Linked DNA regions of Homo sapiens: all the other regions are linked to region 1. The links come from fine-mapping of genetic effects on gene expression. A gene starts in region 1. Each other region holds a variant in brackets. All regions are shown on one strand. Distances are between the middles of the regions.

What was found. PIP is the estimated chance that this variant, and not a neighbour inherited with it, causes the effect.
Region 2: its variant is fine-mapped to the expression of WDR41 in whole blood (INTERVAL, PIP 0.93).
Region 3: its variant is fine-mapped to the expression of WDR41 in whole blood (TOPMed, PIP 0.95). The same link has a PIP of 0.9 or more in sun-exposed skin.

What each region holds. Positions count from the first base shown.
Region 1 is chr5:77,488,272-77,496,271 of GRCh38, forward strand. It overlaps WDR41 (WD repeat domain 41), which reads right to left and starts at 4,045. Exons shown (of 13, transcript NM_018268.4): 1 at 3,899-4,045; 2 at 1,186-1,301. The coding sequence starts at 3,949. RefSeq lists an enhancer at 3,507-4,430 and silencers at 3,551-3,770, 4,211-4,350.
Region 2 is chr5:77,551,147-77,559,146 of GRCh38, forward strand. It overlaps a transcript of WDR41 not described here. Among named protein-coding and RNA genes, the nearest start is that of WDR41, 63 kb to the left of the region's middle. The variant C/T (reference allele first, on the strand shown) is at 3,889.
Region 3 is chr5:77,427,567-77,436,251 of GRCh38, forward strand. It overlaps PDE8B (phosphodiesterase 8B), which reads left to right. Exons shown (of 22, transcript NM_003719.5): 22 at 1-690. WDR41 (WD repeat domain 41) reads right to left here. Exons shown (of 13, transcript NM_018268.4): 13 at 3,367-5,721. The coding sequence ends at 5,569. Among named protein-coding and RNA genes, the nearest start is that of WDR41, 60 kb to the right of the region's middle. The variant C/T (reference allele first, on the strand shown) is at 4,694.

The DNA.
Region 1 (8,000 bases):
CATGGTAAAGCAACTAAATATCAGTAACATTTAAAGAGCAGAGAGAAGGCTGAGCACGGTGGCTGATGCCTGTAATCCCAACACTTTGGGAGGCCAAGGTGGGAAGACAGCTTGAGCCCAGGAGTTGCCCACCAGCCTGGGCAACATAGTGAGACCCTGTCTCTATTTTAAAAATTAAATTAAATTAAAAAAAAAAAAGCAGAGAAAAGACAAGGTTAATAGACAGCAGAAGTGGTGGTCAGAGTTAGGAATAATTACAGTAACACTCATCCATGGAGTGAAAAAAAACAGCAAAGGCAAAAGACAAAATTAGAGATGAAAGTGGAAAAACTAGTAGAGACAACAGAAATGAGGTTGGGGGATTAGGACGGCATTCAATGTGGATGCTTAGTAGTCTGGAGAGTCATTCATTCACTCAGCCACCATCTATGAATTATCTGCTACATGTAAGGCACTGTACTAGGTACTAAGAAAACATGGTGAATAAGAAAAACATAGCCTCATTCTCATGAAGCTTACATTTTAGAGAGGACGAAAATATTGAATTACACCACTAATTATGTAATTATTATGGTGAAACATGCTATAAAAGATATACAGTTGAATATGGGCTTAATATACATATATACATATCAGTAATAGTCTACAGTCCTAAAGCCTATACACCTTCACCTCTATTTGCAAATATATTAAACATAATTATTATACATGTTAGCAAGGAAGTACAGAATAATGTACATTTTCAAGTGGTTTCATCAATAACAAAAACTTTGGATTAAACTTACCTTCCACTAAAAATAAAACATTCCTGGTAGGTACCTGATACTTAAACACTTAGCATATTTGTTTCTCAAATACAAGTTCTCCTTAATATACTGTTATAACTCCTACCCAAATTTTAAAGTCATACACTTCTTTTAAACTATTAAGAATATTTCTGAGAATGCAAACAAACAAACATAACCCTCAAATCACCAGACACGACACCCTGACTTTGGGCAAAAAAGACTCTAGATACATATTTCATCGAGATGCAGAGGCCAATTTCAATTTCTACTAAATGTTACTAATGATCACAGTTTTTAAATTTTTAGAAAAGATGTATTAATTTTAAAGGTGTTTAACATAAAATTCCCTAAAACCTCTTCCCAAACAATAGTCAATTAGACCACTATAGCTTCTTACCTGTAGTCATCTAACTGTACCAGAAATCGTACAATATCATGATGAGCCTTCAGTACTAGCAGTTCAGTGTAGGGATTCTGGGTTTGTTCTTCACCTATTGTCTGTAAAGGAGATTTCTTGTATTGAAAAAAAAAAAAAAGCAAAAAACAAAAGACAAAAAAAGAGATAAAATGATTTGTAAGACCATATTGGAATATAACTCCATGGTATACATCTGAGAACACAAGATTTTAAAAGCCTTAAGGTATCATGTTCTACTACTAAATATTATTTCTTCTTTTATCAACTAAATAACTGCCAGTTCCACATAAAACACTTCTCCTACCACAAATTCGAATCATGAATTTTAGTATTTTCAAATCACAATAAATTTACAAAAAGGGTGAATTTTATTTTATGTAAATTGTATCCTATTAAACCTCACTTTAAAAAAAGTAATGGGCCAATCCAACTCAACATTTTAGAATGCATGTTTCTCAGTTAAAATGTGGCAGAAACAAAACTGCAAATCAAAGACATAAAATAGTGAAACAGTGCCTCATCCATTACAAGCACTCAATACATGCTTGCTAAATGAATAAATGAAGGCATGAAATCAACTCTGGATTTCTCAAACTTGATGCTGACATTTTGGGCTAGAGAATTTTTTTTTTTCGCACCACACGCCCAACTAATTTTTGTATTTTTAGTAGAGACAGGTTTTCACCACGTTGGCGAGACTGGTCTTGAATTCCTGACCTCAAGTGATTCGCCCGCCTCGGCCTCCCAAAGTGCTGGGATTACAGGAGTAAGCCACCGCGCCCAGCCCAGATAATTCTTTGTTGTTGAGAACTGTCCTGTGCATTACAGGACATTGAGCAGCATCCCTGGTCTATACACATTAGATGCCAATAGAACTGCCCCTCTGCAAGGCATGACAATCAAAAATGTCTCCAGACATTGCCAAATGTCTCCTGCGGGGCAAAAATCACCCCAGTTGAGAACCACTGCTTAAACGAGAAGCCTGGATACAAAGTTATTGCATAAATTAGGGACAATCATAGGTTCCGATAATGTACAAATTCACAGCAGTTATACAACTCAATTAGATTTATATGAAGAAATATATAAATTTAAAACATGCATAAATGTTTTCCAAAAAAAAAACCACCACCACAAAGCATTGATTTTGTATTTATTCTGTCTTCCTTCTAGAAGAGATTGTGGTGAGAAATTTGAAAACTATATAAACTGCTTCTCCTCCAATGAAAACTTGCCAGGAATGGGAGACCTGGTTAAGCAAATAACATGATTAACCAAAGAACCAGGTTAAAACAGAATTATCCAAAATGTCGTATATACCATATATGGCTATTCAATAATCCACAATCTCAAGGATTTAGGATTAATCTGAAATAAGAAATTTTTAAAAACAGACAATACCGTCAACTGCAAAGACATGCGGAAGTTAAAATTGAGAAGACTGCCTACTCTCAACAATCCAATTTCTTACTTTTAACAATCTAAACAAATACTTCTTATGAGAAATAAAATGCAATTCACAAATTCTGTTCTTGTCAGGCCTCTGAGCCCAAGCTAAGCCATCGCATCCCCGGTGACTTGCACATATACGCCCAGATGGCCTGAAATAACTGAAGAATCACAAAAGAAGTGAAAATGCCCTGCCCCGCCTTAACTGATGACATTCCACCACAAAAGTGAAAATGGCCGGTCCTCGCCTTAAGTGATGACATTACCTTGTAAAAGTCCTTTTCCTGGCTCATCCTGGCTCAAAAAGCTCCCCTGAGCACCTTGCCCCACTCCTGCCCGCCAGAGAACAACTCCCCTTTGACTGTAATTTTCCTTTACCTACCCAAATCCTATAAAACGGCCCCACCCCTATCTCCCTTCGCTGACTCTCTTTTCGGACTCAGCCCGCCTGCACCCAGGTGATTAAAAGCTTTTATTGCTCACACAAAGCCTGTTTGGTGGTCTCTTCACACGGACGCGCATGAAAGTTCTTGTGTGGCATACGAAATAAATTTGGGACCTCAAAATTTCCAAGACTGCAAAAATTATTTTATTCACATTTCAAATGTAAATTTCATTACACACGGTCTATTCAATTATTCGGGCCCATGAAGAAAGTGTGACTATGAAACCAAAAACAGCAGTTAATTAGAAAATCATGTTCTTGACCTTGAAGCAGATTACTTTTTAAAAATAATTATATCCTTTTTCGGTTGTTGGATAAGTAAATTAATTTTATATTCCCTGACCAAGTATCAGTAGACGCCAGGAAGAGACACCAATTCAAATAAACCAAAAGTGGAAAGCTGCGGTCACAACTCGTTCGTTTCTAGCTAAATCGTATACTTTTTAAGTGGAAATGAAGATAGTTTCGGTAGCCAGAAGCCCTAAGTTGTCACAGGTCCCAATAGGACTGCTGACCAGCTGAGCGTCCCTGAGCCAGGATCTCACGATTCAGCTAGCCGTGGGACGGGGCCGGGGGTCTGCAGCTCCAGGGTGCGCCTGGGGTCCCGCCGGGTCTGAGGAGCTCCGGCTCCCGCGCCCTCCGCCCCCACCGTCGTGAGAACAGCGCGTGGCACGAGCTCAGCAGCCAGCCCCGCCTCCGCCCGGGTCCCCGCGGTCGGAACCCAGGAAGGCCGAACCGGAACGAAGCCGCCCCTCCAGCAAGCTCGACGGACGCAGAGCAGACCCACCCGGGGTTTACCTCGGCCAGTCCCTGCGGTTCTCGGCCTCCCCCGATCAGCCATCGCAACATCCGGGCAGCGGCGGCGTCTTGCCCGGTCCAGCCCCAGTCAGCCCAAACTCCGCCCCAGGCTCGGCCTCCTCCTTCCTCCCCGGCTGCAGCGCAACTGAGACGCTAATACTTCCCGCCCCAGATCAGCCCACGGGCCGAAGGAATGCAGACCACAGTTGAGGGAGAATTTTTGTCCCCAAAGCGCTCCCGTACCCAGCCACGGAGGCTTAGTTTGGGCAGTCGCTTGGGGTGCGGCGGCCGACGGCGGGGGCGGCTGCGGCGATTGCGGGGCGCGCGCTGCTCCGAGTGAGCACGCGCGGGAGCGCCGCCGGGTAGCGCACGGAGCTTAGGTAGCTCGAGCGGCCCCTGGTGGACGCGCGCGGAGCAGCAACCCGACCCCGGCGAGCAAGCGCGCACGAAGAATAATGCCCCTCCCTGTGACATGGCTTTAGTATCCTCCACTTCCTAGGGTACCAGGAAATCTCCCCTGCTTTCCCAAGAGCTTGCTGAAGAAGGTGTACCGCAGTAGACTTCTGCATCCAGACAAATCCAGTGGCTCATGTGTACAGCCGAATAAATCCGGCCAACATTTACTGTGTGCTATAGTACAGCTACTGTGCTAAGGCTTTACATAAATCCTCATGGTAAACCTATATCCTCTATTTTACACATCAAGAAACTAAAGCTCTGAATGATTAGGTAATTTGTCTAAAGATAACAGCTAGGAAGTGGCTACATTGGTAGTGTTCTTGACCGTATGCTATATTAACATAGAATCTCCCTAAAGAATAGAAGGCAGTTCATATACCTTTTTTTGACTACTACATTTTCTTAGGTAGTCAAAGGGCTGTGGTTATCTATGCTGACTGCATATCAGAATTACCTGGGTAGCTTTTGAAAATGTAGATTCCTGGCTTCCACCTCAGACTCATTAAAATAATCTTTGTGGTTGGGACGTAGGAATCGGGGTTTTGGGAAGGCTCCTCAGGTGATTCTGATGAGTAGCAAGGTCTGAAAATCACTGGTCTAGGAACTACTTATACATATCATGTTTGCAAAAGTATAAATATATATATTTGCATATGTATTAGGTTCAAATAATCCTCCTAGCAGTAAATTGTTGTAGGGAATCTACAAATGTCCCAACTAATGCATTAATTCAGCAAACATGTATTGGACACAGATGCACTAGAGAAGCAGAAAGGAATCACATAAAATGCTGCTCTGGAGGGACAAGGCATAATGTCCCAGTCACCAATAAGAGAGAGCCATACATCCCACTTTAAGCTAAGTTGGTTGTGAGCAGCTACACAAACTTACAGTCCCTCTGGAACTCGGATCTCCTATAATTCATCTTTGTATTCCTTTTGAGTGCACTCGGCAAGAACACACTCCCAAGGATCAGGAGCATGTTGCCTTCTGTGTGCTAGCCCCAAATTGCAGTCTGCATACAGTTGAAGACAGACCAAAACAGAGACTATCCCCTGGGAAAGAGGGACTTATCTTTAAGTAAAACAAAACTCAGAGACATCAGGAGTTCAGTTCTGGAAGGAATATCTTCACGTGAGACAATGTGGTTGCCCAAATAGCCTACATTTTATTCTTCTGATTATCCACATTCTTTAGGGTTTGCCCCATGCTCTTTAGGGTTTGCCCAATGCCACATTACTCTGATGTAAGGGACATTCTGCTGATGCTTTAAAGCACTGGTCCAGGGTTGAACACTTCCTCCCTTGGTTCCTCTTAGGACAGCTAAGAAAGAATTTTTTACAAGATTAGTATATTATTGGGCACACAATGTATAAAGATGTAATTTGTGGCATCAATAGAAAGGGTGGGGGTGGAGCAATATAGGAGCAGAGTCTTTGTATGCTATTGAAGTTACGTTGGTATAAATTAAAATGAGATTGTTATAACGTTAGGATGTTAAATGTAATTCTCATGGTAAACACAAAAATACCTGTAAAATATACATAAATGGAAATGATCAGGGAATCAAAACATTTACTACAAAAAATAAGCTAAATACAAAAGATGGCAGTAATAGAGAAAATGAGGTACAAAAAAACTATAAGGCATATAGAAAACAAATAGAAAAATAGAAATTCCTCTTTATCAGTAATTACTTTAAATATAAATAGATTAAACTGTCCAAAGAAAAGGCAGATTGACAAAAAAAAACCAAACTCTAGAATCCAACTATATGCTGTCTATGAAAGACTGACTTTAGATCAAAGACACAAATAGATCAAAAGGGAAAGAATAGAAAAAGATATTCCATGCAAATAGTAACCAAAAGAGAACTGGAGTGGCTGTACTAACAGCTGACAAAATAGACTTTAAATCAAAAAAGTTTTCAAAGACAGAAACATTATGTTATATATTAATAAAATAGTCAATATAGCAAGAAGATAAAACAATTACAAATATTTACACACCTAATAATAGACCCTCAAAATTTATGAAGCAAAACTTAACAGAATTGAAGAAAGATATAGTTCTACAACAATGGTAGCAGACTTCATCTGTCCACTTTCAATAATAGATAGAACAACCAGACAAGGTAAAGAAATAGAGGACATAAACAACACAATAAACTAATTACATCTAACATATAAAGAACACACTACCCAACAACATCAGCATAAACATTCATCTCAAGCACATGTAAGACATTCTCTTAGATAGACCATATGTTAGGCCACAAAATAAGTCTCAATCAATTTTAAAAGATAGATATCACACAAAGTATCTTCTCTGACCACAACAGGAATCAGTGACAGAAGTAAAACTGGAAAATTCACAAATGTGTTGAAATTAAGCAAAACACTCAAACAACCAATGAGTCACAAGAAAAAGCAGCACAAAAGAAATTATAAAATACCTAGAGACAAAAACACAACACGACAAAACTTACGGGATGCGGTAAAAGCAGTACTTAAAGGGAAATTTATAGGTATAAATGTCTACATTAAAAAAGAAGATCTAAAATCAATAACCTGACTTTATACCATAGGAACTTGAAGTAGAAGAGCAAATGAAACCCAAAACTAGTAGGAGGAAGGAAATAATAAGAATTAGAGCAGAGATAAACAAAATAGAGAATAGAAAAAATAGAGCAAATCAATGAAACCAAAAGTTGGTCTTTTGCAAAGATGAAAAAAATTTAAAAACCTTTAGCTGGACTGACAAAGAAAAAAAGAGAAAATGCAAATAACTAAAATTGAAAATGAAAGTGGAGACATTACTACTGACTTTGCAGAGAGAAAAGGGACTATGCGACCACTATGAACAATCGAACACAAATTAGATAACCTAAAAGATATGAATAAATTCCTTGAAATACACAAATTATTTAAATTGACTCAGAAAGAAATGGAAAATATTAACAGACCTATAGCAAGTAAAGAGATTGAAACAGTATTCAAAAACCTCCCAAAAAAGTGAAGTCCTGGACCAGATGGCTTTACTGATGAATCTACCAAACATTTAAAGAAGAATTAACACAAATCTTTCTCAAATTCTTCCAAAAAGTGAAGAGGAGGAAACACTTTTTAACTCCTTATACAAGGCCAGCATTACCCTGATACCAAAACCAGAAAAAAAATCACAAAAAGAGAAAATTATAGGCCAATATCCCTTATGACTACAGATGAAAAAAATCTTTGACATAATATTATCACATTAAATCCAACAGCATATTAACAAGTATTATTTACTATGACCAAGTAAGATTTATTCCGGGAATGGAAGAGTGGTTCAGTATAAGAAAATCAACCAATGTAATACATCACATTAATAAAACAAAGGAAGATAACCACAAGATAATCTCAACTGATGCAGAAAGGCATTTTACAAAATCCAACACCCTTTTATCACAAAACTCTCAGAAAACCAGAAATAGAGGGGAAATTCCTCAATAGGATAAAAAGTAATTATGAAAAACCCATGGTTAACATCACATTCGATGGTGAAAGACTGAAAGCTTCTCCCCTAAGATGAGAAACAAAAGAAAGATGTCCTCTTTGACCACTGCTCTTCAACACTGTATTGGAAGTTCTTGCCAGAGCTA
Region 2 (8,000 bases), 63 kb after region 1:
CTCAGCATCATGCTATGTACTCACGTAACAATCCTGCACAGTACCCTGTGAATTGAAAATAAAATCTGAAATTATAAAATAAAATTTCAGAAAGAAAGAATAAAATAAAATAAAATGTCCTAAGGATTTTGTATGTTTAAGAAGGGGGCAAAAATATTAATTCATGTTAGATTTTGATAAATGATATTCAAAAGCTAATTTTAGAATGACTAACAAAGTAAAAATAATATAGCATAAAATTTCCTTACTAGCTGGGTGTGGTGGCTCATGCCTGTAATCCCAGCACTTTGGGAGGCTGAGGCAGGAAGATCACCTGAGGTCAGGAGTTTGAGGCCAGCCCGGCCAACATAGCGAAACCCTGTCGCTACTAAAAACACAAGAATTAGCCTGGTGTGGTGGTGCTCACCTGTAATCCCAGCTACTTGGGAGGCTGAGGAATGAGAATTGCTTGAACCCAGGAGGTAGAGGCTGAAGTGAGCTGAGATTGCACCACTGCACTCCAGCCTGGGTGACAGAGTGAGACTCTGACTCAAAAAATAAAAAAATAAAGCCTGGGCGAGGTGGCTGTTGACTGTAGTACCAGCACTTTGGGAGGCCGAGGTGGGTGGATCACCTGAGGTCAGGAGTTTGAGACCAGCCTGGCCAACATGGTGAAACCCCTTCTCTACTAAAAATACAAAAACTAACTGGGTGTGGTGGCACGAGCCTGTAATCCCAGCTACTTGGGAGGCTAGAGGCATGAGAATCGCTTGAACTAGGGAGGCGGAGGTTGCAGCGAGCCGAGATCGTGCCACTGCACTCCAGCCTGGGCAACAGAGCAAGACTCTGTCTCAAAAAATAAAATAAAATAAAATAAAATAAAATAAAATAAAATAAAATAAAATAAAATAAAATAAAATAAAATAAAATAAAATAAAATCTCCTAACTAGTAGGGGAAAAATTGAATGAGAAAAAAAATGCAATTGATGCAGGGGAGGACAAGAAAGACCATAGAAAAGGTAGGGCAAATACAAACCACTAAATAAAATTGTCAAAATAAATCTAAATATATTAGTAATTTAAATAAATATAAAGACACATAAAAATCAATTATAGTAACAGTGAACATGCGGAAGCTGACATTAAAAACACAGGGCAATTTACAATAACTCCAAGGAAAATGAAATACTTATGCATTTACTTAACATGTGCAAGATCTATATGCTACAAATTACAAAATGCTGATTTTGTGAAAGTCAAAGAAGACTTAAATAAATGAAGAGATATATCATGTTTATGAACTGGAAGACTCAGTTTAGTAATGCTGTCAATTCTCCCCAAATTGGTCTATAGTTTAGTGTAACTCCTATCAAAATCCCAGCAATATTTTTTTCATAGACCGAGGCAAGCTTATGCTAAAATATATATGAAAAGGCACAGGCCCTGAATAGCTAGAGCAATCTTGATAGAGAAGAAAGACAAAGAAATGGGAGAAACTACTCTACCCATATTAAGCCTGGCTATATAATTACTGTAATCAAGAGAGTGTGGTGTGGGCAGAGGGGTAGACACATGAATCAACGGAGCAGCACAGGATACCCAGAAATAGATTCACACAGTCTGCCACACTGACTTGACAAAGGTGCAAAACCAATTTAAAGGAGGAGGAATAACCTTTTCAACAAATGATGCTGGAACAATTGCATATCCATATGGGGAAAAAAACCCTAGATCTAAATTTCATGCTTTATATAAAAAATGAGCTTAAATTGGATCACAGGCTTAAATGTAAAACAAACCTATAAGACTTTCAGCAAAACACATGGAAGAAAGTTGTCAGGATCTGGCGCTAAGCCAGTAGTTGCCAGACTTGACACCAACTGCATGATCCATAAAAAGAAAAACTGATGAATTGGACCTCCCTGAAATTAGAAATGTTTGTTCTGTGAAAGCCATATAAAGAGGATGAAAAGGAAAACTACACACTCAGGAGAAAATATTTGCAAGTCATATGCCTTAGTCCTTTTTTGCTGCTATAACAAAATACCTCAAACTGGGTAATTTATAAAGAACAGACATTTATTTTTCACAGCTCTGGAGGATGGGAAGTCCAAGATTTAATCACCAGCATTTGGTATCTGGTGAGGCCCCCATCTCCACTTTCAACCAAGATGGAGCCCTGTTGCTGCATCCTCTTGAGGGGACAAATGCTGTGTTCTCAAATAGCTGAAGGGATGTAAAGGGCAAAAAGGGCCTAAGCTAGTTCCCTCCAGCTAGGCACCAATTCATTCATGAGAGCAGAATCCCCCTGATTTAATCACTTCCCCAAAAGACCCCACCTCTCAATACCATCATAATGGGGATTAAGTTTCAACACATGAATTTTGGAGGGAATGCCATCTTTCAAATCATAGCACCAAATATCTAGCAAAGAACTTACACATTTTAAATTCTAGAATATGTAAAGAACTCTCAAAACTCAACATTAAAAAAATCTATTAAATGAACAAAAGACATAAACAGACATTTACCAAAGATGATAAAAATAAGCACATGAAAAGATATTCAATATCATAAGCTGTTAGGAAACTTTAAATTAAAACTACAATGAGATACCACTACACACATATCAACATGACTAAGATTTTAAAAAATAACACCACCAAATGCTGGCAAGGATGCAGAGAAACTGGTTCACTCATACATTACTGGTGGGAATGTAAAATGGTAAGCCACTCTGGAAAAGAGTTTAACAGTTGTTTAAAATGTTAAACTTGCAACTACCATACAACCCAATAATTGCACTTCTGGACATTTATGCCAGAGGAATGAAAGTTATTTTAACATAAAAACCCAAATAATTAATGGTTATAGCAGCTTTATTTGTTATTGCTAAAAACTGGAAGTCAACAGATGGTTAAAGAAATTGTGGTATATGCACAACATGGAATTCTACTAAGCAATAAAAATAAATAGTCGGTTGATACATATGACTTGGATGTCTCTAGGGAATTCTGCTGAGTACAATGATATAGTGTTTTATAATCCCCAAAAGTTACACACTACATTATTCCATGCATATAAAATTTGGGGAGTGCCAAATTTTAGAAATGGAGGATCGATTAGTGGTTGCCAGATGGTAGAGATTGGTGAGGGGAGGTAGGGAAGTAGTTGTTCTGGTCTGAATGTTTCTGTCCCCCTGAAATTCTTACGTTAAAATCTAATCACCAGTGAGATGGTATTAGAAAGTGGGACCTTTGGGAGGTGATTAGGTCATAATGGTAGAGCCCTCGTGAATAGGATTAGTGCTCTTGTAGAAGAGATCCCAGAGAGCTAGCTCACCCTTCCCACCATGTGAGGACACAACTACAAAGTACCTTTCTAGGAGACAGGCCCTCTCCAGAAACTGAATCTGCTGATGTATTGATCTCGGACTTCCCAGCCTCCAGAACTATCAGAAATAAATTTGTTATTATTATATAATATAAATTTTTTATAATTTATAATATATAGTATAATTTATAACTTATTTAGTATAATTTCTGTTGTTTATGAGTTTATAGTATTTTGTTATAGCAACACAAATGGACTAAGACAGTGGTGTAGTTATAAAGAGCAACAGGAAGGATCCTTGTTGTGCTGGAACTGTTTAGTATCTTGAACAGTGGTAGTGGATACAAGAATCTACATAGCTGATAAAAGTGCCTAGAGGCCGGGTGGGGTGGCTCATGCCTGCAATCCCAGCACTTTGGGAGGCTGAGGTGGGTGGATCACTTGAGCCCAGGAATTCGAGACCAACCTACAAAATATACAAAAATTAACTGGGCACAGTGGCATACACCTGTAGCCCCAGCTACTCAAGAAGCTGAGGTGGGAGGATTCATTGATCCCAGAAGGTGGAGGCTGTA[C/T]CTGATTGTACCACTGCATTCCAGCTTGGGTGAGACAACAAGACCCTGTTTCAAAAAAAAAAAAAAATACAAGTATATAGAACTTAACACACACACTCGTACAATTCAAATTGGAAAAATCTAAATAAAATCAGTGAATTGTATTAATTTTCTGGTTGTAATACTATGCTATTATTTTCAAAAATGTTACCGTTGGAGGAAACTGGGCAAAGTGTACAAAGGATCTTTCTGCGTTGTATCTTAAACTGCATATTACTCTACAATTATCTTTTATTTAATTCATTTATTTATTAAGACAGGGTATCACTTTGTCACACAGGCTGAAGGGCAGTGGCATGATCACGGCTCACTGCAGCCTCAACTTCCTTGGCTCAAGTGAGCCTCCCACCTCAGTCTCCCAAGAAGCTGGGACTACAGGTGCACACCACCACACCCAGCTAATTGTTTTGGTTTTTAGCAGAGGCAAGGTCTCGCTATGTTGTCCAGGCTGGTCCTGAACTCCTGAGCTCAAGAGATCCTCCTGCCTCAGCCTCCCAAAGTGCTGGGATTACAGGTGTGAGCCACCCCGCCTAGCCTGTAATTATCTTTAAAAAAGACATTAATTACAACAGCATCCGAAAATATAAAGTGCCTAGAAATGAATCTAACAAACAATGGGTAAGATCCTTATGAAGAAATTATAAAATTTTATTGAAAGAGATAAAAAGACTAAATAAATGAAGTATAAATCTTATCCTCATGGATTGGAAGACAAATTCATAAAGATGTAAAGATTCAATACTATTTCAATCAAAATCCTAACAAGGTTTCTTTGTGGAAACTAACAAGCTGATTCTAAAATTCATATGGAAAGAAAAGAGCCAAGAATTAAACACTACTGAAGAAGAAAAACAGAAGGAAGAGACTTGCCTTACCAGATATCAGGTGTTTTATAAAGCTGGAGCAATTAACACAGTGGCATTTGCACAGAAATAGCAAAAATAACCAACAGTTGAAAACAGAGAACCCAGAACCCAGAAACAGGTTTGATTTTTGACAAAGGTGGTGGGGAAAAGATGGACTTTTTTTTTTTTTTTTTTTTTTTTTTTGAGATGGAGTCTCTCTCTGTTGCCAGGCTGAAGTGCAGTGGTGCGATCTCGGCCCGCTGCAACCTCCGACTCCCGGGTTCAAGCAATTCTCCTGCCTCAGCCTGCCGAAATAGCTGGGATTATAGGCCCATGCCACCACGCCCAGCTAATTTTTGTATTTTTAGTAGACATGGGGTTTCACCATGTTGGCTAGGCTGGTCTAGAACTCCTGACCTCAAGTAATCCACCCACCTTGGCCTCCCAAAGCGCTGGGATTACAGGCGTGAGCCGTTGCACCCGACTGACTGACTGTTTGTTTGTTTTGAGGTGGAGTCTCGCTCTACTGCGCAGGCCAGAGTGCAGTGGCATGATGTCGGCTCATTGCAACCTCTGCCTCCTGGGTTCAAGCAATTCTCCTACGTGTAGCCCCCAAGTAGCTGGGATTACAGGCACGCGCCACCACACCCAGCTAATTTCTGTATTGTTTGTGGAGTTTTAAATTTAATATCACTAAGACAGCTGGTTATTCATGTGGGGAAAAAAGTGAAATTGGGTCTTATTTTTGTGGTTGCCCCATGAAAGGTGAGCTCAATGCCCCCATCCAAAACTGGTTCAGATATCAAGATTGTTGATACCACATTTACAACAAGAAGGTATTTTAAAAGTTTATTACACACAATGAGGCTTTCTGGTCAGAACAGGACAGGCATCCAAGCCAGTTCTAAATGGCTTGAGGGAGGGAGAGAAAAGGGTCTTTGATTTTTAATGTGGTCAGTGATAGGGCCAGTATGAGGGATGATTTGAACTTCTCCTTGGCACCAAGGGAGGGGGCACCTGGGGTTTCTAATCAGCTTTGCCAGATGCTGGGCAAGAGGGAAAGGGGGAGGGGTGGAGCCTGAAAGCTGTTGGTAGTCAAACATCAAAAATGGAATTAGATTATTTATTACAGATCCCTTTTACACACATAAACAAAAAATTCCTTGTGGATTAGGAGTTATATTAAAAGCAAAAGTATGAAACTTTTAAAAGACAAAATTGAAGAATATCTTTATGATCTCAAGGTAGTGAAAGATTTACTAGACATAGCACAGAAAGTACTAACCATAAAGAAAAAGTGATAAATTTAACTCTAGTATATTAAAGTTAAAAACTTCTGTTTAAAAGCAAAACAAAACAAAAAACCATTAAGAGAATAAATAAGTAAACCACACTCTGGGAGAAGTGATTTGTTACACCCTAAAAATGAGCCCCCAAAATTGTACCCAGAATATACAAAGACCTACTATAAGTCACCAGAGAAACACACACAATCCAATAGAGAATGGACAGAAGACTTGAGCAAGCATTTCACAAAGAGGTGGCAGAAGTAACCAAAAGTATAAAAAGATAAAAGATGCTCACAGTAAGATGACATTTCACATCTGTAAAGCTTGCAAAAATTAAAAATTCTGACAATATTAAATGTTAGCGTGAGCCACTAGAACACTTGTACACTTCTCATGGCAGTAGGAATCAGTATAGTCGCTTTGAAAAAGCAGTCTGGCATTAATTGCTTAGTGGATTTGAAGGCATGCAATTCCACTCCTAGGCACGTACCTACAGAAACTCTTGCACATATACACCAAAATACATGTGTAGTAATACTCAGAGTATAGTGACACTATTCATAATAGAGAACAATGAAAACAGCCCAAATGTTTACCAACAGTAGAATGAATAAACTGTGGCATATTCATACAATGGACTATTAGGTGAGAGTTAAAAGTAATGACTTATAGTAGAAGCAATGAAGTTACAAAAGAATGTATACGGTATGATTATCTTTATATAAAGGCCAAAAACATGCAAAATTAAACAACATATTGTTTAGAAGAAAAAATGTGGCAATGCAGTGAGTAAGAACAAGCAAATAAAAACCCCACGTCAGTGTAATGATTACCTTTAAGTAGGGAGGGAAGAAATGAACACATAGGGAACTTCAAATGTTCTTTTTAAAAAAAAAAAAAAAAAAAAAACAAAACAGGAGTAGGTATGTAGGTAATCGTTAAAATGCGATTCTTCAAATGTTAATATATTTTAAATTAATATTTAACTTTAAAAAACAATTTGTATAAAGAAAAATCATTGCTCTTGAATTCTCTTTCTGTTTAGGAAAGGAAAATTTACCATTGTGACATTTTTAGTGTCTTATGAGCTTTTCCTTGTGCATGAGTAAAAATCTAAGAAAAATAGAAAAGGAAATTGAAAAAGAATATTCTTACATATGTGCCAGGCAACAGCAGACAGCCCACCTTTCCCAGGGAGTCTGGCTACACAAAGGCCTATGGAGGCAGAGCAGATTGCCGCATTCACCAAAAGAGCCTCGCTGACCTGCACCGAATTCCCCAGAGGACTGGGCCCTACTTATTTTTACATCATTAGCCCTCTTGGGGCAGGCTGAGGTCATTTCCAATTTGAAAACGACCTTGGATCACAAGCTGAAGTTTTCCATTTGTTTACGCTATTAAACATCCTGAGATATGATTAATAAGTCTTCTGCATAGAGAAATAAGTTTATTTCTAACAAACATGGTCCTTGACATGTTTCTACTATTTATGTTATTGCAGTGAGTTCATTCCACAAACTAATTTTCCAGCACTTTCTAATCTTAGCATTGTTTGGCAGTCTCTTAAACTCAGCAATAAGTTGTCTGATAAACCAATATGCAAGACATGAATTGTTTAGAAAATTATGAATATGTGATTACTTTCATCCTTTCAAAATAATAAAGTCATTGAAAAAATATTTTTTTTCTGTATTTTCCAAATTATCTATTACACTAAGGGAAAAAAACCTTAATTTTTAAAGCTTAACAAGAAATTGTGGGCTAAGATTCCTTAGGGAATCAAATATACATTTCACTTCTTGTAAAAGGGTCTATGAAAGCTGTTATTACTCTTTTAGGAGAGCTCAAGAATAAATAACAGACACATGTATTGAGTTGCTCTGTGTGTATTAAAGACAGTGGTACGCTGGTAAATAGTTAACAACCAGCTATATAGAGA
Region 3 (8,685 bases), 60 kb before region 1:
ATTTGAAATCATGCCATTAGCTTTAACAATGTTAAAATTGTGTGGTGTAAATATATCAGAAAATAGGCATATGGGGAGGCAGTAAATACTATTTTAAGCTATTAATTGTATGCTAAAAGCTTCTAAAGCACAAGTGCATATTTTTATACTGCTCTTTTCACAACTCCCTGTGATCTACATAAAGTCAGACTCGAGATTTTCCTTTCTCTTTTACCAGCTGATCCTTCCTATGTATTATAAATATTAGACTCCGTAAACAAACTTCATTTTTCTTTCTCTGTACTTCATGCTGCATTTTTAAAAGGTATAAACAAACAGAGACTGAATTAATTGAATCAGTAATTACTTTTTTCCAATACAAATTGGAATGCAGAATACTTGGAACTTGTACATGGGGAAAAAATGACTTATCACTACATAATGTGCCAATGTTTTTTTCTATGTTTTGTACCAAAAATGGAAAAATATGACAATTCCATGCAAAGAAATGTATCTAAATTATTTTTGTTAGATGATAAGAGAACTTGCTTGGTCAGGACAGCAGCCAGCTTTGTATTGTAATGCTATATTATGTAAATGTGATGAAAATGTTTTTGTGAAGTACTTGTAACTAAATTCCTACAGCCATTTTTCACTCCCAACAGCTGTTTTTATTTTACCTCTTTGGCCTAAAGTTTTCATAATTTCAAATTTGGGGTTTAGTGTCCTTTATTTCATGAGTCACACACTTTGTTTTCAGAGCACATTAAAATCAGGATGCCAGAATCCCATATTAAGGACCTAGCTAACTTGCCTAGGCTTCAGAAGCTTGCTTGAGGCAAGGACAATCTTTTTCTGATCATCTCACTTTCAGTTCTATTTGGTAAGTAACATTTATCAGGTGTCAGACATCTTCTATATGAAATATTTACAGCTTACTCAGTTTTATGTCAAATTTCTTGTTAACTTCAAACTTTTTATTAGTAATGTGCAAATGTTTAAAAATGCTTTAAGACAGCTAGGTACTAAAGCGTCAACAATTTCTGCTCTTTACCAGTGTAATCTACGGTATAATCTTCTGGCCTGCGAACTAGTCTATTCTTCCACATAGTCAACTTGTTAGAAATACAGGCTTTCAGATGATATGTGTATCAGATAGTTTATATTATATAAACTATTATAACTGCCTCTTACACAGAGTTGTTTACTTAAATGTCATGTGCTGAGGAGGGCCGTATTAGGAAAATGCAACACTCTCTAATAATTTCCGTGACTAGTAAGAGAAGGAAGCCAGTTATAAAACACTGCTGGACCAGAATGACCCTATAATTTCCTAAGATCATTCTTTATTTCTAATTTAAGATTTTTAAATTTACTTGCCCTCCATGTCAGGACTGGTTAGCATTCTGGGCAAAAAAAAAACAAGCCTGTCAGTTCACTCAGAACCTACTCAGCTTTAGAGAGAGAAACAGAAGGGATGATCTTGTGCCCTTGCGCTATGTGAATATAGCCAGAGACTGAGGTAATAAATATATTTTAAAATAAAAATGACAAGGGATTTGTACACTGTAACACTATGTAGTGTTACTTCTGCTGTTGCAAGTATCTTAACTGTTGAAAGCTAAACTCAGGAAATGGAGAAAATGTACATAATATACATTGACCCATTATTTTATTCTAAATTGAAAGTCCAACTTTTAGCAGCAGTCTACCTGCAACTACTGAACACCATCAGGTTTGAGTCCCTACCAGAATCTCCCATCATACTGTTATCCCCCATCTCTGTGACCTTAGGGCATGCATGAAAACAAAAGCAATCTAGTCCCTAGGGTTGGAGACTGCCCTCTAGACAGTTTTTCATGGCAGAAAATTAGAATACAAGTATACCTCATTTTATTGCATTCTGCTTCATTGTGCTTCAAAGATACTGCCTTTTCTACAAATTGAGGGCTTGTGGCCACCCTGCATAGAGCAAGTCTATCGGGGCATTTTCCCAGCATGGGCTCACTTTGTGTAAGTGTCACATTTTGGTAACTCTTAGAGTATTTCAAATGTTTTTATTCTTGTATCTGTCATGGTGGTCTGTGATCAGTGATCTTTGTTACTACTGTAATTGTTTTAGGGTACTGCAAACCATGCCCGTATAAGACAGTGAACTTAATTGATAAATCTTGTGTATATTCTAACTGTTCCACCAACTAGCGGTTTCCAGTCTCTCCCTCTTCTTAGACCTCCCTATTCCCTGAGACACAACAATATCGAAATTAAGCCAATTAATAACCTACAGTAGCCTGTAAATGTGCAAGTAAAAGAGTCACATGTCTCTCACTTTAAATCAAAAGCTACAGATAATAAAGCTTAGTGAAGAAGGCATGTTGAAAGCCCAGGCAGGTGAAAGCCATGCCTCTTACACCAGTTAGCCAAGTTATGCAAAGGAAGAGTTCTTGAAAGTGTTAACTCCAGTGAACATGCAAACAAGAAAGTGAAACAGCCTTACTGCTGAGATGGAGAAAGTCTGAGTGGTCTATATAGATTAAACAAGCCACAACATTCCCTTAAGCCAAAGCCTAATTAATTCTTCAATTCTTTCTTCGAAGACTGAGAGGTGAGGATGCTACAGAAGAAAAGCTGGAAGCAAGCAGAGGTTGGTTCATGAAACTATCCCCATTAACGTCAGAGTGCAAGGGACAACAACAGCAGGAAGTTGTCCAGATGATCTAGCTAAGATCACTGAAGGCGACTACACTAAACAACTGAGTTTGTGAAGATGAAATGGTCTTCTATTAGAAGAGATGTCATCTAGGACTTCATAGCTGGGGAGAAGAAGTTCAATGCCAGCGAGTGTAGTTGGTGCCTTTAAGTTGAAGTCAGAGTTTATTTACCAGTCCAAAAATCTTAAGGCCCTTAAGAATTATGTTAAATCTACTCTGCCTATGCTCTAGAAGTGGAATAACAAAGCCTAGATGACAGCATATCTGTTTATAGCATGGTTTATTGAATATTTAAGCCTATGGTTGAGACCTGCTCAAATTTCTTTCCAAATATTACTGCCCATTACAATGTTACCTGGTCACCTAAGAGTTCTGATGGAGATGTACAAGGAGGTTCATGTTGTCTTCGTGCCAGCTACCACAACATCTATGCTGCAGTCCATGGGTCAAGGAGTCACTTTGACTTTTAAGTCTTATTTATTTAAGAAATACATTTAATAAGGCTGTAGCTGCCCTAACTAGTGATTCCTCTGAAGAGTCTGGGCAAAGTCAATTGAAAACCTTCTGGGAAGCATTTAGCATTCTAGATGCCACTAAGAACATTCTGATTCATGGGAGGCGGTCAAAATTCCAGCATTAAAAGGAGTCTGGAAGAAGTGGAGCCTGAAGATGTGAATGAATTGCTGTAATCTCATGATCAAACTTTAATAGATGAGAAGTTGCTTAAGAATGTGTATAGAAAGTGGTTTCTGGAGACAGTCATTTCCACAGTGAAGATGCTGTAAACATAGTTGAAATGACAACAAAGGATTTAGAATATTCTATAAACTTAGTTCATAAAGGAGCATCAGGATTTGAGATGACAGACTCTAAATTTTGAAAGAAGTTCTACTGTGGGTAAAATGCTATTAAATAGTATTACATGTTACAGAGATCTCATTTGTGAAAGGAAGTCAATTGATTTGGAAAACTTCATCGCTATCTTATTTTAAGGAACTGCCACAGCCACCCCAACCTTCAGTAACCACCTTAGTCAACAGCCAGCAGTATCAAGACCCTCCACCAGCAAAAAGATTATGACTCGCTGAAGGCTCAGATGATTGTTAGCATTTTTTAGCAATAAAGTATTCTTAAGGTATGTACATTTTTTAGAAATTTAAGACTGTAGTATAAACACAAGTTTTATAGGCACTGGGAAACCAAAAACTAGATGTGACTCACTCTATTTGCAATAGTTGCTTTTTTGATGTGGTCTGAAACCTAACCTGTAGTATCTCTGAGGTACGCCTGTATAATGACCAGAAGGAATTTGCTGTGGTACTTACGGTACCATTTGCTTCCAAAATTCATGTGATTTCTACCACTCCATTTGAATAGATTACTATCACAAAATACTAGCCTAGAACAGGCTAGGAAGTAAAACAGTTAAGTCTATGGCTCCCTTGTGTCATACAACTTCAGAAAACAACTTTACAAATGTATGGGCCAATGCAGAATTTCTAAAGGAAAAAGCACGTGAATAATGGGAGAAAGTCTTCTGTAATTGAGGTAGCTTAAGTTTTAATATTTCTCCATAGAACTTTTCATGACTCAATGTTGTTTGGATTTAAAGTAGTCATATAAGCCTTTTCTCATTCAGTCTTCAGTTCCTGTTTTTAGAGCTGCTTGGTGATACTGGGCACTACAGATTTAATTGCAAGGCCTTACTGCACTGGGCCTCAGTTTCCTCATTTGTAACATTATGCCACTGGTCTACTCAGATGACCTTAACTCTTCCAGTCTTTGTAGGTAGTTGTGGAAGCAACTGTCAAAGCTAAAACTAGTAAAAGAACTTATGGAGATTCCCTTTAGGGTATATTTGTAGTATATTTGTATAATGAACAAATAAATCTGTAGGTTTTCTGTAAGAAGGGTCAGTCTGCTAACATCTGTCACGTTGCCCTTTCTTCATCAGTAGTTTAAGAATTTCAATCTTTAATGTGTAGACTACTTTCTAATATTTT[C/T]ATTTTTTAGCACCAAAAGGAGAAAACATATTGTTACAAGGCTGGTTATAGTGTCTCAATGGACACTGCAAAGAACTACATAAAAGAAGTCTGTCTCAAGCAGTTCGTATTTGAGTCAGTGGTCAGATGGGGCAGTTGCGCTCAGCTGCAGTCCCTGACTCCGGAAACACTGTGCCTCTCAAATGATCTAGAGCTCATCCTTGGCGTACATGAGGGGCAGTTGTTGTTCTAGTACCCATTTAGCCCATGGCTCTTCAAGCCAATTCACACTGGGAAAAACACACCCTCACAAGATGCCTATCCATTTGAGTTCATACAGGTTTTAGTAGCTAGAACTAAAAAACATTTTTAAAATTATCTAAACAAATTGGTACCAAAGAAAACTTGCCATACTTAAACAGTATATATGTTCCCTTTTTTGGCTGAGAGATTCAAGTTTGTGCTATATAGAACACTAACAGTTACTAAAGACTAGGAAAATTTGCAGGAGAAAGGCTATTTTTAAACTTCACAATAATTCTAAAGGAAGCCAAATAATAAAACTTCTAATAAATGCCATAACTTAACTATTACCTCTATTTGTACCTTTCACAAGGATCTAGGTTCAAAATAAGCTCAAAACACAGCACTCACCACTTCAACAGCAGCTCAAAGTCAAATGGAAAAACTTGTGGTATATTCTTTGGAGGATATACTAGGACCTGAGAAGCAACATGTTCCTGGTTGGTAGGTCCACAAAAAATTTAAACATGTAGAATTTTATGGACTGACAAAAAAAATTACCAATTTAAGTGATCAATATATTAATGGTTTTCAGAGTAGTACCCGATATTTGATGTTCAAGGTTCATGCATGTGTATTTTTAATTCCTTAAACTAGACAGCAAGGTATAAGTCACCATTCTCCTCTAATTTTTGAAATAATCTTAAACTGCGCAATCCAGATTCTCGCTCTCCATTTTTCCACAAAATAATGAGATGATCAGCGGAGCACGTCACTAGTCCATGATCTTCAAAGTATAGAAACATCTGTAAAGAAAATTAAAACTGATTATAGGGACCCCGAAAAGCAGAGAAGTGTCTAATACCACATTAACACATGTGCGTGTGAGATATGTGCCTTAAAGACTCCTTTGGATCTGGGTGTAGAACTTCATTTCATTTTTCAGTATTGGTAAGTCACATACAAATAATATCTAATATTTTAATCAGAATTTTGTTAATATTGTTCAACTACAGAATAGCTATTTTTGTAAAGTACATGAATTCTCATAGTTCTTCCAGATTTTTTCATCATCTGATTTTTCAAGTATTGGTTTTACTTAACCATTACTTATACTGTATAATGGCTATGGAAAAAATGTCTGAATTCTAAATTTCCCAAGATAAACACTGGCTTCAGCTCTCTATAAAAGTAGATATACTCAATCCATAGGTGTTAAGTGTCAGCACTACGTTTATGGTCCCTACCCTCAAGAAGATTCTGAAAAGCAAATCATAATTGAAACAATAAAGGTACCAATGAGAGATTATGTAATCAGGTACTAAATAATGCAGTATAGACTATGACATGTCACAGAAATTCAGAAAAAGCTTCAAAGGGAGAAAATGCCCCAAGTAAGGGGAAGGGGCTTGCCCAGTGAAGGAATAGGCTGGAAGCTAAGAATAGGAAAACAGAGTGTTGACAAAAGGCAGCATGAATACTATGGGGTGAAGAGTTGTATCAGAAAAGTGAATCAATGAAAAGGATGAGGTCCTCGAAGGAAAGGGTGAAATAAAAGAGAAACAGGGCCGGGCGTGGTGGCTCACACCTGTAATCTCAGCACTTCGGGAGGCTGAGGTGGGTGGACTGCCTGAGGTCAGGAGTTTAAGGCCAGCCTGGCCAAACATGGTGAAACCCTGTCTATACTAAAAATTAGCTGGGTATCTGTAATCCCAGCTACTCGGGAGGCCGAGGAAAGAGAATCGCTTGAACCCAGGAGGTAGAGGTTGCAGTGAGTGGAGATTGCGCCATTGTACTCCAACCTGGGCAACAAGAGCAAAACTCCCTCTCGGGAAAAAAAACAAGAGTTTTCTCTGAAATGACATATACATTTCTGAAGACCACAGGATAAGACTCAGCTGAGGATGCAGGAGTGAAGGGAGGAAACATGGGAGCAGAATTCCTTCGGAAACTGGAAAACACAAAATTCAGTACACAGGTAGAGGGGTTGCGCCAGTAGAGCAAGGATGAAAATAGAAATGAGGACCAGCCTGGCCAACATGGTGACACCCCATCTCTACTAAAAGTACAAAAATTAGCTGGGCGTGGTGGCGGGCACCTGTAATCCCAGCTACTTGGGAGACTGAGGCAGGAGAATTGCTTAAACCTGGGAGGCGGAGAGTACAGTGACCCAAGACTGCACTCCAGCCTGGGCAACAGAGTGAGATGCTGTCTCAAAGAAAAAAAAAGAAATGAGGAAATTCAGGTGACACTGCAAAGATAGCCTAGATTTTATCAACGAAGCTGGAGATGCTTTTTAAAAGTGTTCAGGTCTCAACACTTTCACTCAGGAAAATTCCTAAGAAGCTGACACTGTTTTATAGAATGAGAAATGTGCCACATTCAAACACATTTTGAATGTCTTTTACATGGGGTTTTCCCTACCATCTAAAAACCTTTTTAATGAGTTCCTACTATTTAAAAAATAAAGTCCAAACTCCTCAGCCTTACATTCAAGGACATCCATAATCTGACCCCAAACCACGTTCCCAGGCTTTATCCCCTACTAGTGTCTGTTCACAGGAACCCAGCGCTCCGGCCTAGCCAAGGTGCTCCTTGCCACCACGTAAATGCTATCTTTGCCCTTCTGCCTACCACAGTCCATGCTCACCTCCCAACCATAAACACAAAGTTAAAAACTGAGCTACTTGTTAGAGGAAAGCAAAGATAACTATGACACTGTACCCCAACATCAAGGAGCTTATGATGACAAGGCTATATACTCATCCTACTAAACTTCAAGGTTCAGCTCAAGTGTCAAGTCCTATATCCTCTAACCATTTACAAGATTCAGCAAGAAATGTTTCTTCTGAGTCACTGCTGCTTACTTGGGTCCATCAAATGCAGCCTAGGGTAACAGCCTATTAGGTCTATACCCCTTCTCTCCACTCAAGGGTAAGATCCATGAGGGCAAGGACTGTTTTCATCTCTCTCTGTAAACTCCAGCAGCCAGTGTTTAGCACAGTGCCTGAAATACAGGAAATGCTCACTAACAAGGATGCTGCCGCTGCTCCTCCTAAGCATGAATGCCCTTTCAAATGAAAAGAAATTTTTTGTTCTTTGGCTATGAAACAGGGAAGAACAATTTAAGAAATTCCTTAGGGCCCTGATTACACTGTTATTAGTTCTCACAGCTAATCTGTTACCTCAACTGATCTTATTCCTTCACTACAGGCAATGATGCCTGCAGCAAATATTAATGTATCTGGATTTCTACATGTTAAAAGCTTACGCATTTCATAATTTTCAACTAAAACTTTCATATTTGCACAATGAAAATCAAGGCATAGGTTTCATTAAAGCTAACAAACTATTATCCTTCAAAGGCAGGAGAAACAGGACTCTGTTCATGAATTTGATAAAGGCCCCTGGAATTCGATTCTGTTAAGGCTTTAACTGTATACACATATAACCACAACCCTTCATGCATCCTCTGTTTACTGTTGTCATATAGTCAACATTATTCACACTGCCCTTACTGTCAGCTATCTCCAGCTCCTAAATAATGGTGATTAAGACCATTCTTAAAAGCAATGCATTCCTTGTTTCCTCAAATCATATATCCGGAAAGGGAGACCCTAACTGCACATACTATAGCCTATCCCATTCCATGTTCAGATCTGACAAACACCTACAGATATAAGAAAAAGTATATGCCTTTATGAGATCAACTGAAAGAAAAGAGCAATGAAATGCAAAAGCAGGAGTTGCTTGGACATTCTGTGGCTAAA